Linked DNA regions of Homo sapiens: region 1 is linked to region 2. A link means that fine-mapping ties the variant in region 2 to the expression of a gene that starts in the linked region. Tissue or cell type: fibroblasts. Region 2 holds a variant in brackets; the other region holds the start of a gene. All regions are shown on one strand. Distances are from middle to middle.

Region 1 (8,109 bases), 180 kb before region 2:
CACACACACACACACACACACTCTTCTACAGAAGATGGCTTATATATATTTACACACACTCTTGAAACTTCTTCATACAAAATAGTGCATAGCCCACAAACCTAAGAATCCTAAATTATCTTTATTACCAATGTATTGTTTTTAGTGTTTTATTTCTAGACTGTAGCCTCAATCCCTATTTTATAGCTTCAAGCTACCACTGAATTTATTCTGAATAGAGAGGCAGTTTCTTTACATGAGGAATAAAAGATATCTGTATTCTTTAGAATGTTACATGAGAAATAACTTCAGTCAACTCTTCGGCAAATACTCAAGGCATTACTATCACTATTAATGTTTTAACTCATTGACTGACTAGGAATCTTGCCTTTTTTCCTTTCATCCCAGTAAATACCTTGTAGATTGGCCAAAATTTTGAAAGTTAAAAATCAGTTTGGCTCATCATTTCTAATCAATTATCTTACTCATCAGTCAGGTTGATAAATTTTCACTCCACTTTTATTCATTCATCCATCCAAAAGATCTTCATTTAATTCATATCTATGACATATCTACTATGTTTACATTTCTCTGAGAACAGTCAACTCCCATGCTACACATGCCCAAACAATTTTTTCCTTCCATTGACAGGCATTATCTTAAATTTAATACAGTATTATGTCATGATTTATCCAGTTAAACACAGACATCCAGAAATAGATTCAGTGTCCATCCAGACAGGAAGTAGGCACTAAATATCAGTAGTTATAATGTCATGGATCAGGAAACTATGACAGGACAACAGAAATAAAATTGCTCCCTCCTGAGACCTTGCCAAGATCCTCTGGCAGACCAAAGTTGTCGGCTCCACTCCCTAATTCTTCACCCACAACTCTCTCATGCAATGAAAATTATGCTTTGCAAAATCATTCCAAAATGTATGGGTCTGTGAATGTTTTATGCATTCCTACTGTGATTTCTGGTATTGAGGATGCTTAACAAGAGGCTAGGGCTTATTCTACATGCTACAGACAACTCGTAGACTTTTATAGGTGCTCTGAGTTAAAAGTAAAAATTCCATTATGTTTATACTCTATCTGAATTCATCTGAATGAAGGGAACCAGCTTCACAGTTTGAAAAAGAGCAAAGACTACTATAAAATACAAAAGAAGTTAAAGATCCAATAACTAATCTCAAAAGTCCATTTATAGCAAAGAAATATAAAGAAGTACCAATTTTATTCACCGTTTACAGATGACCCATCAGCTCAGCAGACAACATATTAAACCATTCACTTAATTTTATTTGCATTGAAGATACATACATGGAAGAAAATGGCTTAGACTTTGGACGCATTCAGACCCTAGTTTGACTTTAGTTCCCACCTATCAGTCACTAGCTAAGTAACTTTTAAAAAGGTATTTGCAACTCTGAGCCACAGTCCTCATACATAAACTAGGAACAATGTCAACCATGACCCAGGGTTGCTTTAAGGGGAAAAAAGTTAAGCAATATATATAGCAGTAACACTTTGGAACAAGATAGGTCTTGTTATTTAATATTCCTTCCTCTTTCCCCACTTGCCTGTGTGCAACAAACTTGTCTTTGGCTTTGAAACATGAAACTTCTCCCCTCTATCAGTACACATTTTTCAACTTGTCACAAATCTGAGACATTGAGAAATGACTGCAAAAAGATGGACCCATATAACATGAGTTTTGGATGACGGTTTTGGGAATGGAAAATTATACTACATTAACGATGAAGATGCCAATTTTCCTTTTCTTTTAGATTGTATATTGTAAGTAAAACTATCACTTTTTTTTTTAGGCCTTTAGGTTAAACGACGGGATATGGGATCAATTCCAATTGCTATTCCTGATATGCTCCTTAGCCTGTTCTTTAAGAGGGTTGATAGGTCAAAGATGGAAATAAAATTCTCAAGTCTTGGCTTAGCTGGATCCTGTCCTTAATACGCTGAGAGAGTCTAAAATGTGCTTTACACACGGAGAGACGGGGAGAGATGAAGAGAAGGTATCATAAGAAATTTCTCTAGCATAGTTGTCAGAGTACTGCAATCATTGCCATAAGGAAAAGGGAGAACGATATTAACAGAAAGGGAATCCCTTTTATATTAAGGAGGCAAGATGAGATGGAGTTGAAACTGAAAACTTTATGCTCTTTAAACCAGAAGTAACAGGCAACGTGAATCTTTCCAGGACTTGCCCTATGGTGGGGTCCACATGGGGGGTCGGGAGGTCACTAACTCCTGGTCCCATACCCAACTCACCCAGCTGGAGCTGTTCGCACGTCTGGCCGGGATTCTTTCCGATCCTGCATCTGTAAATCGCCCCGGGATTGATCACTGAAGCGTTGGCGAGCCAGTTGGCAGTGGGCGCACCCACTAGGAGCCTAAAGCGAGACACGTGCACGTGCGCTCAGACGTGAGCTGTGCTGCCCACTGAGCTCCCTGTCGCCACAGATGTGCAGTCCGCAGCAGGGCAGCTTCCCCACCTCCTCCTCCGCCCACCACCCCCGACTCGAAGCTCCAAGACCTTGCACCATAACGCACCCGGGGCGCTGCCGCCCCAAGATAAGTTAGTTTCCCTGGCAGATTTCCAGCGAGCTGGCTCTCGCAGCGTTTCCCTCCTGCCTCCTTGGGAGGGAGGAAAGTTTGAATCGGGCAGGGAATCCCTAGGGCGCCATTCTCACGCCGCTCTGAGCTGCTGAGGGCGCATCAGTCCAACTCTACTCACCATCGGTTCGCCCCGTGGCTGTGCAGCACGACCGAGTAGCCGAACAGCGTGTTGTGGGGGCCCTGGTAAAGCAGCGCGCTCTCAGTGTCCACGTTGTAGGGGCGGCCGGTCGGGACCCCCAGGCACAGCAACAGCATCACCGTCTCCCGGACGGCGGCCCTTCGGGGGCCGGGTTCGCGCCTCGCTTCCCAAGCCATGCGCTCTCGGTGGGGAACATTCAACACTAAACGGCCACTACCCCAAAGTTGCACGGGATGCGACGGTTGGCCAACGGGGAAGAACGCCCCAAGAGATGAGGCGCAGCGTGTCCGGCGCCAGCGGGCTAAAGGAAGGAGAGAGGGAAGAGGAGGGGAAGTCGGCCCACCGCGGGCGGAGCGTTCGGGCCGGCCTGGGATGCCGCGCACTCGCCCGGCCCCACTCCCGGTTTCTGCCGCCAGCCGGGAGCTTCGGGTGCTCGCGCTGCTTCTCCGGGTACGGGCCGCTGGGTGGGGTCCCGGGCGTGGTGCGGAGGCGCAGGGCCGGGCTCCGTCTCTGCCTACGCGCGGCTGCAGGGGGCGCTGGGGAACCTCGGCTGCGCAGGACTCGCGTCCTGGCCCGGGCCTCCCAGCCCGCAGAGCGCGGGATGGCTCTGGGCTCAGCAAGAGCGGACCTGATGGGGCACGGGCTTCCCCTTTTAACGGTGGTTGGGGCCTAGAAGCGGAGCTGTGTGACCCCAAACTGCGCGCCCCTCGCTGTGACCGCCCAGCCCGGCGTGGCCCAAATGCCAGCCACAAACTCGGGGAGTGGGACTGCGGCGGGGAGCCGTCCAGTTCTTTCGTTGATAGTTAAACACTGTGTCTTGTTTTTCAGGTGTAGGCAACCACTAGATAAATTATCAAGAGCCACAGATTAAAAACAAAAAACCAAACAAAAAGACTCGCCGAAGGCCCCTGGGGAACATTTTAGTGACAAAGACGTTATGGCTATTCTCTTCAAGACCCACATCTCAGCACCCTTCTATACCCACTTCCTTCCTCCCCACACTTCCTCTGCAGCCCGGGCTGCATGCGTGAGCAGGCTAGCAGCAGCCTCTCAGGCTGAACGGCAGGCGGTTTAGGCTGTGGCTGACCCCAACAGAGAGGTTGGGTTAAGGAAGCACTGTGACTTGATTCACTTTAACCGATTCGGATTGCTCCAGCTGGTAATTGATGATCCCCCCTTTTCACGCACCCACTCAGTTGCCACGGGACACACCTGCTTTTAGGGGTGTAAACCCCAGTGTGGGGTCAGGGTCCTAATGAGCCTCTGAAATGTGCCGGAGACCCACAACGCAACACACCTGAACTGGGTAGTGAGTCTCATTCTAATGCAATCCAGGTGTGCCCTGCCTTTTTTTTTTTTTTCCTTCAGCAACCAGAGAGACAGCCATAGGTGATTATTAGACTGATATTTTCAGGAGATGAAAGTCTAGTTTTTTATTGTTGCTATATGTAAAAAGAAAAGAAAAGTCTGCATCAAAGAGTGTGTCTGTGTGCTAAAACCATGCTGGAATAAATAACACATCTGACACTAATGACAGATACACAATTAAAATGCTTATTCATTTATTCAGCACATTCATGGAGCAGGCACTTGACTAGGACCACAGGATTCCACCAAGAGTAAGGCAGGACTGATACAAAGTTTCAAAAAATGTTCGCTCCAATGGTAGATAGAAAAATTTGTACTAACTAGAGAAAGATCCAGGTAAGGACACTTAAAGAGAGATTTGAAGGACCAGGAATCTTGAATCAGGCTAAGAATGGGATGAGCAATAAGGAGGGCTCCAGAGGAGCCAGGTAGAAGAACTGAGAGAGCTTGCCTGGCTAGAGTATTTAGCCACTCCACACACAGGTTGGTGTGATATGAGGCTGACTTAGGGAAGCAGGAATACATGGTGAACCTCATGAGCCAGGTTAGGAATTTTAAATCTATGTTGGGACTGACAGGAAGTTGAAGAATTTGTCTCGGTCAGCTCTGGGTTTCAGAAGTGTGAATGCAAGACTGAACACAGAAAACCTAATTTTGGAAGCCCCTGCAGCAATAAGTAGAGATAGGATAATCCCAAGGGGAAGTATTTCTCTTTCTTGAAAGAGAATGGTGCTACCATTCATGGAGAAAAAAACACTGAGAAATGAAGTTATATGCATGTATGTGTGCATGCAGATGGGGGCATGGATGGGTTAAGTTTTAGCCATGTGGAGTTTGAGATGTTTATGGAATGACAGGATATTCTAGCCAAACTCAATGCAATTATTTTCAGTCTGTCAACAGACAAAACATGAGGAATATTAACTTTCTCTTACTCTATACTGGAAAAAGTCAATACAGTGTGTGATAAATCTATTGTAAAAATGAAATGGCTTCCAGAAAGCTAACAATCAGGGCCCATGGCTGTTTCTTTCTGTAGTAGTGCTGAGTGTGTTTCTTTCTTAGTAGATCTACATGCTGATTTTAACCCAGTTCCACAATGAGCTTACAGTGTCGTTATTCTGAACTATGCAATCCTTCTTGTTTACAGCTACAAAACCTCCAGTTGAGGCCAAGGAAGTAGGTATGTTGAAGCCATTCTGACACCCTCCAGAAACTGGCAAAGCCAGATCTTCTGATCTGAACCCCTACCAGTTTCTTTCCCTCCCTTCACCAAAATCTTTTACAATGAAAGCCACTCAACACAATTCGTTTCATAGCGTAGTTTTGGTGACAAGCAGTCAGTGGAGTGGTTGGTAAGGCAGGACTTTTTTCCATAGTATGGTTATAGTTATGATTCACTACCTTTCAAGAAATAGCCACCCTACATTACCTCACGTTAGTTAGCTGAATTTCCTTCCTCCAGGGCTTGGAAAACAGCTCGCTTTTCCTAATGTTAGCAGGAATAAAGTGTGTTTCATGTTGCTTTAAAAAAAACTGAAGATACTGCTATCTCTCTGATCAATGCTTCTGAAGGCAAGTGAGGGGGTGGAGGAAGGAGAAGAGAAGGATGTTTAAGAAAGACTCATGCCTATCCCTAGCTCTCAACTCGACATAAATATTTGGGCACTCAATTATTAAATGTCATCAGATTAATATGTATATAAGTGCCCACTATATGCCAAAAAAATGCATTATGCACTAAAATTATAGTAGACAAAATACAAGTGATCTCTAACCTTGTGTAGAAAGTCCTCCCCAGTAGCGAGAATTCTAATGTGGACTCACCCTATTTTTCAGTTTTTATCAAGAGTAAGCATTTCTCCTTCTAGGAAGACTCTCTTCTCATGATACCACCTTATTAAGCTTTTTCCTGCCTTTCTATCTGGCCACTCTGAGTTTCCTCTGATGGCTCCCTTCCCTCCGCCATAAGTGCGGGAAACCCCCAGGGCTATATTCTGGAAACTCTTTCATTCTCTTTCCATCTTCCCTCTTTAGGAGATCTAACCCATTTCCTATGTCTTTAAATACCATCTAAATATAAGTCATTAACAGAATCAAAAACAGAAACGGTATACTTATTTCAATAGATGCTGAGATAGCATTTGATAAAATTCAACATTCCTTTATGATAAAAATTCTCACCAAAATGGATATAGAAGGAACATACTTCAAAATAATGAAGGCCATATATGACAAACCTACAGTCAACATCATACTGAACACAGAAAAAATGAAGGCCTTTCCTCCAAGGGCTGAAACAGACAAGGATACCCCCTCTCACCACTGTTATTCTACGTAGTACAGAAAGTCCTGGCCAGAGCTATCAGGCAAGAGGAAGAAAGGAAGGGTATCCAAATTGGAAAGGAAGAAGTCAAATTAGGTTTGTTTGCAGACTACATGATCTTATACCTAGAAAAATCTAAAGAGTCCACCTAAAAGCTGTTAGATCTGATTCAGTAAAGTTGCAGGATGCAAAATCAACATACAAAAATCAATAGCATTTATATGACAACAGTGAACAATCTGAATAAAAATCAAGAAAGCAGTTCCTTTTACAATAGCTACAAAAATGTACAATACCTAGGAATCAATTTAACTAAAAAAGTAAAATATCTATGCAAGGAAAAACTATAAATAAAACTCTGATAAAAGAAATCGAAGAGGACACAAAAACCCAGAAATATACTCCGTGATAGACTGGAAGAACTAATATTGTTAAAATTACAATACTACCTAAAGCAATTTACAGATTCAATGCAATTCCTATCAAAATACAAATGACATTCTTCACGAAACAGAAAAATTCCTAAAATTTATAAGAAACCACAAAAGACCCTGAATAGCCAAAGCAATCCTGAGCAAAAAGAACAAAGCTGGAGGCATCACACTACCTAACTTCAAAATTTACTACAAAGCTATAGTAACCAAAACAGCACAGTATTGGCATAGAAACAGACACATAGACCAATGGAGCAGAATAGAGAATCCACATATAAATCCATGCACTTACAACCAACTAATCTGTGACAAAGCTGTAAAGAACATACAATGGAAAAAAACAGTCTCTTTAATAAATGGTGCTAGGAAAACTTAATAACTACATGCAAAAAAATAAAATTAAAACTTTCTCACCACTTCTTCCTTTCCAGTTTGGATACCCTTCCTTTCTTCCTCTTGCCTGATAGCTCTGGCCAGGACTTTCTGCACTATGTAGAATAACAGTGGTAAGAGGGGGTATCCTTGTCTGTTTCAGTCCTTGGAGGAAAGGCCTTCATTTTTTCTGTGTTCAGTATGATGTTGACTGTAGGTTTGTCATATATGGCCTTCATTATTTTGAAGTATGTTCCTTCTATATCCATTTTGGTGAGAATTTTTATCATAAAGGAATGTTGAATTTTATCAAATGCTATCTCAGCATCTATTGAAATAACCAATACACCAAAACCAAATCAAAATGAATTATAGACCTGAAATTATGAAATTACTAAAAGAAAACATTGGGGAAATGCTCTAAGATATTGGTCTGGGCAAAGATTTTTTTGTGTAAGACCTAAAAAGCACAGGCAACCTGAACAAAAATAGACAAATGAGATTACATCAAGCTAAAAAGCTTCTGCACAGCAAAGAAAACATCAACTAAATGTAGAGAGAACCCACATAATGAGAGAAAACATTGGCACACTATCTGATGAGGGATTAATAACCAGAATATATAAGGAGCTCAAACAACTCAATAGCAACAAAACTAAAACCTAACAAAGAATGTAATTTCAAAATTGGCAAAAGATCTCGACAGATATTTCTCAAAAGAAGATATACAAATGGCAAACGGGTATAAGAAAACATGTACAACATCACTAATCATTAGAAAAATGAATATCAAAACCACAATGAGATATCACCTCACTCCAGTTAAAATGGCTTATATAAAAAAGGCAAAAA
Region 2 (8,109 bases):
ATCTCCCCTAACCTTCAATTTCTTAACCTGGAAATTAAAAGGGTTGGATTGGATCATTTAATCTCTAAATGCTCCCCAAAGCCCCTTCTACTTACAGCATTCTGCAATTTCATTTTGCTTTTTGTACATAATTTCTCACTCCCACTGTGATATTTTTCATATATCAGAAATGTCTTATTTATTTTGTTTATGGTTCAATGTTAAAATAAATCTTTTATTTGCATAAACATTCAGGGAACATAACATTTTCCTCTTATTCAGAAAGAAGAGCACAACCTCCGGGGGATGACATACACCATAAGATCTCTCAAAATTATTGTCACATTTTTATCGCGATCATACCTTGAGAATGGGAGTCTGAACCCCTTATTTCAGACTGATAAGGAGACCAAACAGTTATCTAGAACAAATACATATATATACATTTTTTTGAGATCTCACTTTGTCCCCCAGGCTGAAATGCAGAGGTTCCATCTAGGCTCACTCCAGCCTCAACCTCCCAGGTTCAAGCGACCTCCTGCCTCAACCCCCCAGGTAGCTGGGACTACGGGCTTGTGCCACCATGCCTGGCTAAGTTTTGCATTTTTCTGTGGAGATGGGGTTTTGCCAGGTTGCCCAGGCTAGTCTTCAACTTCTGAGCCCAAGCAATCTGCCCTCCTCAGCCACCTAAAGTGCAAGGATTATAGGTGTGAGCCACCGCGCCTGGCTAGAACAAATACTTTTTAAAAAATAATTGGACCTTAAAGACAAAAAAAAAATTAAAAGACTTATAATGGCCATAACTAATATTTATATAGTACTTATCATTAAAAGACTACATGCTTTCAAAAATAGGCTCCAGAGTAGAAATAGGTTTTCTACATAAATTAACGTGATGGAACTGAAGCACCAAGAGTTACTTGCTTCTTGCTTAAGAATAGCAATTGAGGCCGGGTGCGGTGGCTCATGCCTGTAATCCCAGCACTTTGGGAGGCCGAGGCAGGCGTATCGCAAGGTCAGGAGATCAAGACCATCCGGGCTAACACTGTGAAACCCGGTCTCTACTAAAAATACAAAAAAATTAGCCGGGCGTGGTGGCGGGCACCTGTAGTCCCAGCTACTCGGGAGGCTGAGGCAGGAGAATGGCGTGAACCCGGGAGGCGGAGCTTGCAGTGAGCCGAGATCGCGCCACTGCACTCCAGCCTGGGCGACAGAGAAAGACAGCGTCTCAAAAAAAAAAAAAAAAAAAAGCAATTGAATCCAGCTGCTTTCCACTAGGTGAAGAGTCAAATATTGTAAAGTGGAAAATATCTCAGGGTGTCTGCCCATCCCACTTCTCCTTCGAGAAGGGTCACTCACTGTCTTTAGTAGCCATTTTTGTACTTTGCTCCCTGCCCATAGCTGATCCGACTGTAAGTGGAAACTCTCCCCTTGCATAGTCAATCCATTGGCTGAATTATAACAATGAATATTTCTAGTAATTGGGTGAAGAGACACTAGCTAGTTGGTCAGTGGCACTCAAGCTGGAAGGCTATGTAAGCTAGGAGTGGGTGCCACATGCACCCTGAACTATCAAGAGAAAGATAGAGGAAGGGAGGGAAACAGAGAAGGAGAGGGGTAAAAAGGGAGAAAGGGGTGGATAGGAGACAGGGAGAGTAAGAGAGAGAGGAGCGAGAGAGACAAAGATGAGGGTGGGGATTCAGACAGAAAAAGAAAGATAAAGAGCTATATCTCTACTCTTGGGTTGTATTTTAAAAATTATGCATCCCAATAAATTCTCCTCTTTAATTCAATCTAATTTGAGTTGATGATTTTTTCTTGTAAGATATCTTTCTATAAGACCTAATGACTCTCAAATCAGTCCAGGATTCTTTCCCTAAACTCTCTTTTACTGGGCCAATGTGGTATCTAGTAACTACTACTACTATTTGCAAAAGTAGGTAAGCGGCTTCCACTAACTATGAAACAGTTATCTATTTCCATAAATGATAGCTTGGCACCAAATACATTTAAAATGTGATGTGATTTTTTTTCTTTTTCTTTTTCTTTTCTTTTTTTTTTTTTTTTCACTGTAAAAGATCAATATTCTTTCTAGTCAAATTCCAGAAATAAAAAGAAGCCAAAGAATGAGTTCAGTGAGATCCTGGATTTTCCCTTTCTCTACTTTTTCTGCAGAAAGTACGTTTTTGCTCTACTAGTTGTTATTAGAAAGAATATATTATGTAAAGTGATGGAAACTACAATTGATTTATAAGAGTTTTTGTTATTTCTGATAATTTATTATGCCCCTGAGAGTACAAAACTACTTAAAAATGCTTTTTTGCATTACAAATTTTAATACACCAGCATGGGAACGATTTAGGTTGCATTGAGTTTGAAAAAGTGCAAAAATATTGCTTCTGACATCAACAATTGATCCCCTAATTTAAAATCCTTTTTCTATGTATATCTGTCAGGTTATTTGGGTATACATTGGTATATGACATCAATTAGAAAAGAACCATTATGAGTGACATAGAAAAAAAAAATGGGTAGGCAGCGGTAAGGAAAGATGGACCTCAATGGAGAGGGGAAGACAAGGATAAACTGGTTCTGAGGCCAGCTTCTCATGACCTCCAACTTCTCCAATGCTGTGACTGTTCTGTGATGGAAACTGCAACTGATTCATAAGAGTTTGTGTTATTTCTGATTACTCCCTAAGCTCAGACAAGCAGCAAACTACTTAAAAATGCCTTCTGCATTATAAATTTTAATAAACTAGTGTGGAAAAAGCTGGAGCTTATTATCACAGAGCTCAACATGCACCTTACTTGGGAATCAGAAGCTGCAGGCCTTGCCAGGAGCTGGAGGAGCTGCAGGCCCGCCACTGCTCAGCACCAATAAGGTGAGCCCTCAGACAAACAGCAACACTAGAGGGCTGCAAACAGAGCAGTGCCCTCAAGTGACCTTCCCAGCATAAAAGAATATGCTTTCTACTTCACTTCCACCTACCACATCTTATGCACTGTGTCTCTTGCACCTCACATTAACCCGGGTTAGGGTTAGGGTTAGGGTTAGGGTTAGGGTTAGGGTTAGGGTTAGGGTTAGGGTTAGGGTTAGTGCACATCTTATGCACTGTGTCTCTTGCACCTTACATTAACCCAGAAGTACGCAGGCAAAGAATAGAGGGAAATACCCTTCCAGCTTAGTTAACTCAACATCATGTATATCCACCACACTGTGGTTCTTGCTTGCTATCATCCTCTTATTGGTGAAAAACCAACAAAGCCCAAATCATAACTTCCTCATTGATTTGACAAATTATTCTTGGGTTAAAACAAGAAAAATTATAACATTACTAAGTTTCAAGTTTAGTTTTTTTTTCGCACCAGAAACACAGTGTTTTGCATACCATAAGTGCTCATGAATATTGATAAGTTGAATTACATGAAATCAGGTGCTTTACAACCCACAATATGGGCTTGACCTAATCCCTCCTTGTTATCTGTGTTATTTTCCCTTGACCAGATTGAGCCACATATTTATTTTTCATTTACTGTCTCTTGCCAGCTCTTTATTGAGTACTTGCCAGTAATATACAACATAATATAACCTATGGTTAGTTCCCATGGCTCTTGAAATTTTTCAAATTATAAAGAGAGAGTGTCTAATGACAAATAGCTGGATTTCTAAAATATTCATGTAAATAAAAACTGTATGACTGGAGTTGTTGTGCTGCACTATTCTGAAGGGATAAACACAACATTTAATTTGTTTTACATTTTGGCTGTTTGCAAAGCTTTCCTGGGTTGTACGGGTCATTTTTATGTAAGATAAATCGACATGTCTCCTGTTAGTAGAGCTCTGCTTTTTCCAATAGTTTCTTAATGTTTGAGAAGTCATGGAATCCTCATAAGAATGTATGAAAGTTATGTACTCTCTCTCTCTCTCTCTCTCTCTCTCTCTCTCTCTCTCTCTATATATATATATATATATATATATATATATATATATATATATATATATATAGATGATTTCATACAATTGTAAAGGAGTCAGAGACCCTCTGTAGCCATCTACAGATCCTCTGGAAAGCAAATAGACCTCAAATCTAAAAACTTCTATTCTTGACTAATGATGATCGTTATGAAGAAGATACTTGAAATCTCTAAGATATTAATTCAAATGTATCATAACTACATTAAAATCTCCTCGTGGGGGTGGAAATACTTAAATTACATTAAAAAAAAAACCTGCAAGCATCTCTACCAGGCAGTGACTCTGTGACTCTGACACCGTTTTGGTGTTTACAGGCTGCCTCTTCCATACTGTCTGTGTTTTTATTTCTTTTCATTACCATTTTGACCACCTGCCTGGTGTTCTAACACAGTTCTTTCTAACTTAATTGATGCCCAATTCGTGTGTTTTAATACATTTTAAATTACCACATATTATATGGATCTTACTCTTTATGAAAATGTTCTCAAATTTTTAAATCATGTTTTTACATTTGATGCATGAACCTCAAAATTATTTTCATTCCATGTGGTGCTGATCTAATGTCAAGGTTTGGATACTGTTGACAATCTCCAAACAAAAGAAGAGATTTCTGTTTTAGTAATTGATCCCAGTTGCTTTTAGAAAGTAGGTTCTCATAATTTAAAAATGTCCAGTTTCACAAGGAGAATTTTTTTCAGCCTACACACATCTGTATAGATTGTCCATCGTCTAAATCACAAAGCAAGATTCTGATTTTTAATTTGTTCTGGCATGAAATTAGGTGCAACATCTGTTTTGCACATGTTTTAC[C/A]TTTTTATCCCTTTTGCTCATTACTGCAGTTTTCCTACCCAAAGATTTCCAACTGAAAATGTTTTTGAAACCTTGATCTGTATTCTTAAAGGTAAGAAAATTTTTTAAATTAGTTTTCTGTGCTTAAAAAATTAATAAACGTGTTACATTGCCAAAGTGAGTAAATCCTCACTTTAGTAAGGTGATCCTCACCAAATTATAAAAAAGAAGCACTTACATATCACTGTGTCTAAAACTGGCTTCTCTTTAGCAAGGTGGTGAGGAAGATATAACGTATTACTGAGGTGTTACCATGCCCTCCTGACATAGCTGTAGTTTTGCCTCGGATGAGGCAATGTGGACACCATACCCTCCTGCATAGGTTCTGCTTTGGGGGTTGGCCAGAGCTCTGTCTCCCTGAACTCCATCCAGCCGAAGCCTGTGACTCCCAAAAAGGTAAGAAAGAGGGAAAATGGGTTGAGAGGCTGTTACTGATATGCTGCATTAGAAGATGAAAACTTCATAGTAAAATATCATAGGTGGGGACAAAAGAGAACAGTATATTCTAAAAAATTTTACTGAATCATTTTTTTTTTCACATACAGTCAGGCAGCCATGGGGATATGTTCTGAGAAATGCATTGTTAGGTGACTTCATCATTGTGCAAATATCATAGAGTATTCTTAGACAAACCTAGATGATATGGCCTATATACACCTAGACTATGCAGTATAGCCTATTGCTCCTTTGGCTGCAAACTTGTCCAGCATGTTACTGTATTGAATAATGTAGGCAATTTTAACACAATGGTAAGTATTTATGTATCTAAATATAGCTAAATATTGAAGAGGTACAGTGAAAATATGATATGAAAGATTTAAAAATGGTATGCCTGCATAGGACACTTACCCCTGAATGCAGCCTGCAGGACTAGAAGTTGTTTTGGGTGAGTGAGAGAGTGAGTGATGAGTGAATGTAAAAGCCTAGGATATTACTGTACACTACTGTAGACCTAATAAACACTGTGCACTTAGGCTACACTACATTATTTTTAAAAACTTTCTTCACTAATAAATGAACCTCAGCTTACCCTAAGTTTTAAATAAACTGTAATTTTTAAAACCTTTTGACTCTTTTGTAATAACATAACTTAAAACAAAACACATTGTATAGGTATACAAAAATATTTTATTTATATCTTTTCTATAAGCTTCTTTCAATTTTTAAAATTTCATCTTTATACTTTTAAACTTTTCATTTAAAATGAAGACAAAAACAAACACGTTAGCCTAGGCCTACATGGGGTCAGGATCATCAATATCACTATCTTCCACCTCCACCTCTTGTCCCCCTGGAAGGTCTTCAGGAGCAATAACATGCATGGAGCTGTCATCTCCTATGATAACAATGCCTTCTTCTTCTGGAATGCCTCCTGAAGGACCTGCCTGAGGCTGTTTTACAGTTAACTATTTTTAAATAAATAAAAGCAGTACATGCTAATAATGATAAAAAGCATAATAAATGCATAAGCCAACAACCTAACATTTTATTATCATTATTAAGTATTATATACTATGCATAATTAAATGTGCTAGACTTTTATACTACTGGTATGGCAATAAGTTTGTTTACACTAGCATCACCACAAACACTTGAGTAATGTGTTGTACTATGAGGCTACCATGTCCCTAGTGATAGAAATGTTTCAGCTCCATTATAATCTTAGGGGACTGCCATTGTATATGCAGTTCGTTGTTGACCGAAACATTGATATGCAGCACATGACTGTATTTTTCCTTTCTTCTGCCCTCAGATTTTCAGCTGCTAAGCAGATTTCTTTTCTTTTCTTTTTTGTTTTTCTGAGACAGAGTTTCGCTCTTGTTGCCCAGCCTAGAGTGCAATGGTGCGATCTTGGCTCACTGTAACCTCCATCTCCTGGGTTCTAGTGATTCTCCTGCCTCAGACTCCCAAGTAGTTGGGATTACAGGCACACATCACCATGTCTGGCTAATTTTTGTATTTTTAGTAGAGACGGGGTTTCACTGTGTTGCCAGGTTGGTCTTGAATTACTGACCTCAGGTGATCCACCTGCCTCGGCCTCCCAAAGTGCTGGGATTACAGGTGTGAGCCACTGTGCCCAGCCTAAGCAGATTTCTAAATTCCTTGCTTAGAGATACTTGAAACCCTTTCCTTCTCTCCCTAAAGATTCTGCTGGGTGATGGGGAGGGGAGGAAAGAGGTAGATGGCTCTGAGAAGACTAAGAGGGGTAGGAGAGATTCCTTGGGATTGGAGAAAAAAACTGTGTGGGTCCCTTGTTAGTGTGTGTGTGTGTGGGGAGGGTTTGTCTCCAGGGTCAGAAGTCACATACATATGATACCATTGTGTGAAAACAATAACCATCATTCACCAGCGTCCAGAAGGAAACCAAAATAAATATACCTGAAAATTAAAGGAACTTGTATTTAAATAGTTCGCTCTTCTTCTAGTCTATAATATTAAAACTTTTATGAGCATTGTTTTCCTTTTAAATGAAAAACATTCACAAAATGAAGATGATAACCTTTTTTAGCTGTTTTCCAAAAGAAGGCCAGTTGGAGCCACATAATTTAGGTGCCTCAAGCTATCTTTCTTCTAATTACTGCATGAATTCATCTCATCATCATTATCAGGTAACTTTAAATGTACCCACACAGGCTGAAGCATTCCTGGAAGTGCATTTCTCTATGGAAGATAATGCTAGACACCACAATAAAAGAAGCCAAATGTGTTAAAATGCAAGGTGAAAATTAATAAGAAAGAATTCTGACTATCTTTTAAAAATATTCAGTATTGTACAATTGTGCACATTTATCAAATTTCTGGTTTCCCCCACATAATTAGAAAGCTCTAATTTGAAAGATATCACTTTAAATAAATATTCTGTTGTTCAATTCTTTGAGAAATCTCAGAAGCTGAAAATACTAATTTATGATAGGCGAGGAAATCACTCACCAAGAAAAACAACCTGATATCCACCCTAAAACAATGCCGTGGTTTGGTTCAACTATCCCTTACTAAGCCACTTTCAAAATTAACATTGAGAAACGGTAAATTTTTTTGACAGTATTCCTTTTGCAAAACATTAAATAACTACAGAAAACACAAAGATTTCTAAATCTTCCTAATTATGTCTTCACTTATATGCATTTTTAATGAAGAACTCAAAGTAATTGCTAACTCTGGAGTAGTGGAGTATACAAATCCATTTATTTTGTTTAAAAAACATGCAGCTGTCTCTTTGAGAGCCTTTAGGAGGTGAAGCTATATGACTCCCCACCGTGGGACATTCTTAGCACTTATAGCTTACACACAGAATTTTCCACC

The links. PIP is the estimated chance that this variant, and not a neighbour inherited with it, causes the effect.
Region 1: ITGA4 starts here. The variant in region 2 is fine-mapped to the expression of ITGA4 in fibroblasts (GTEx, PIP above 0.99).

Annotation. Positions count from the first base shown.
Region 1 is chr2:181,452,479-181,460,587 of GRCh38, reverse strand. ITGA4 (integrin subunit alpha 4) reads right to left here and starts at 3,202. Exons shown (of 28, transcript NM_000885.6): 1 at 2,737-3,202; 2 at 2,271-2,392. The coding sequence starts at 2,933. RefSeq lists enhancers at 2,156-2,205, 2,566-2,615, 2,676-2,865, 3,586-3,695 and a silencer at 3,016-3,405.
Region 2 is chr2:181,270,761-181,278,869 of GRCh38, reverse strand. The region is part of intron 3 of LINC01934 (long intergenic non-protein coding RNA 1934); the gene reads right to left. Among named protein-coding and RNA genes, the nearest start is that of MIR4437, 31 kb to the left of the region's middle. The variant C/A (reference allele first, on the strand shown) is at 4,768.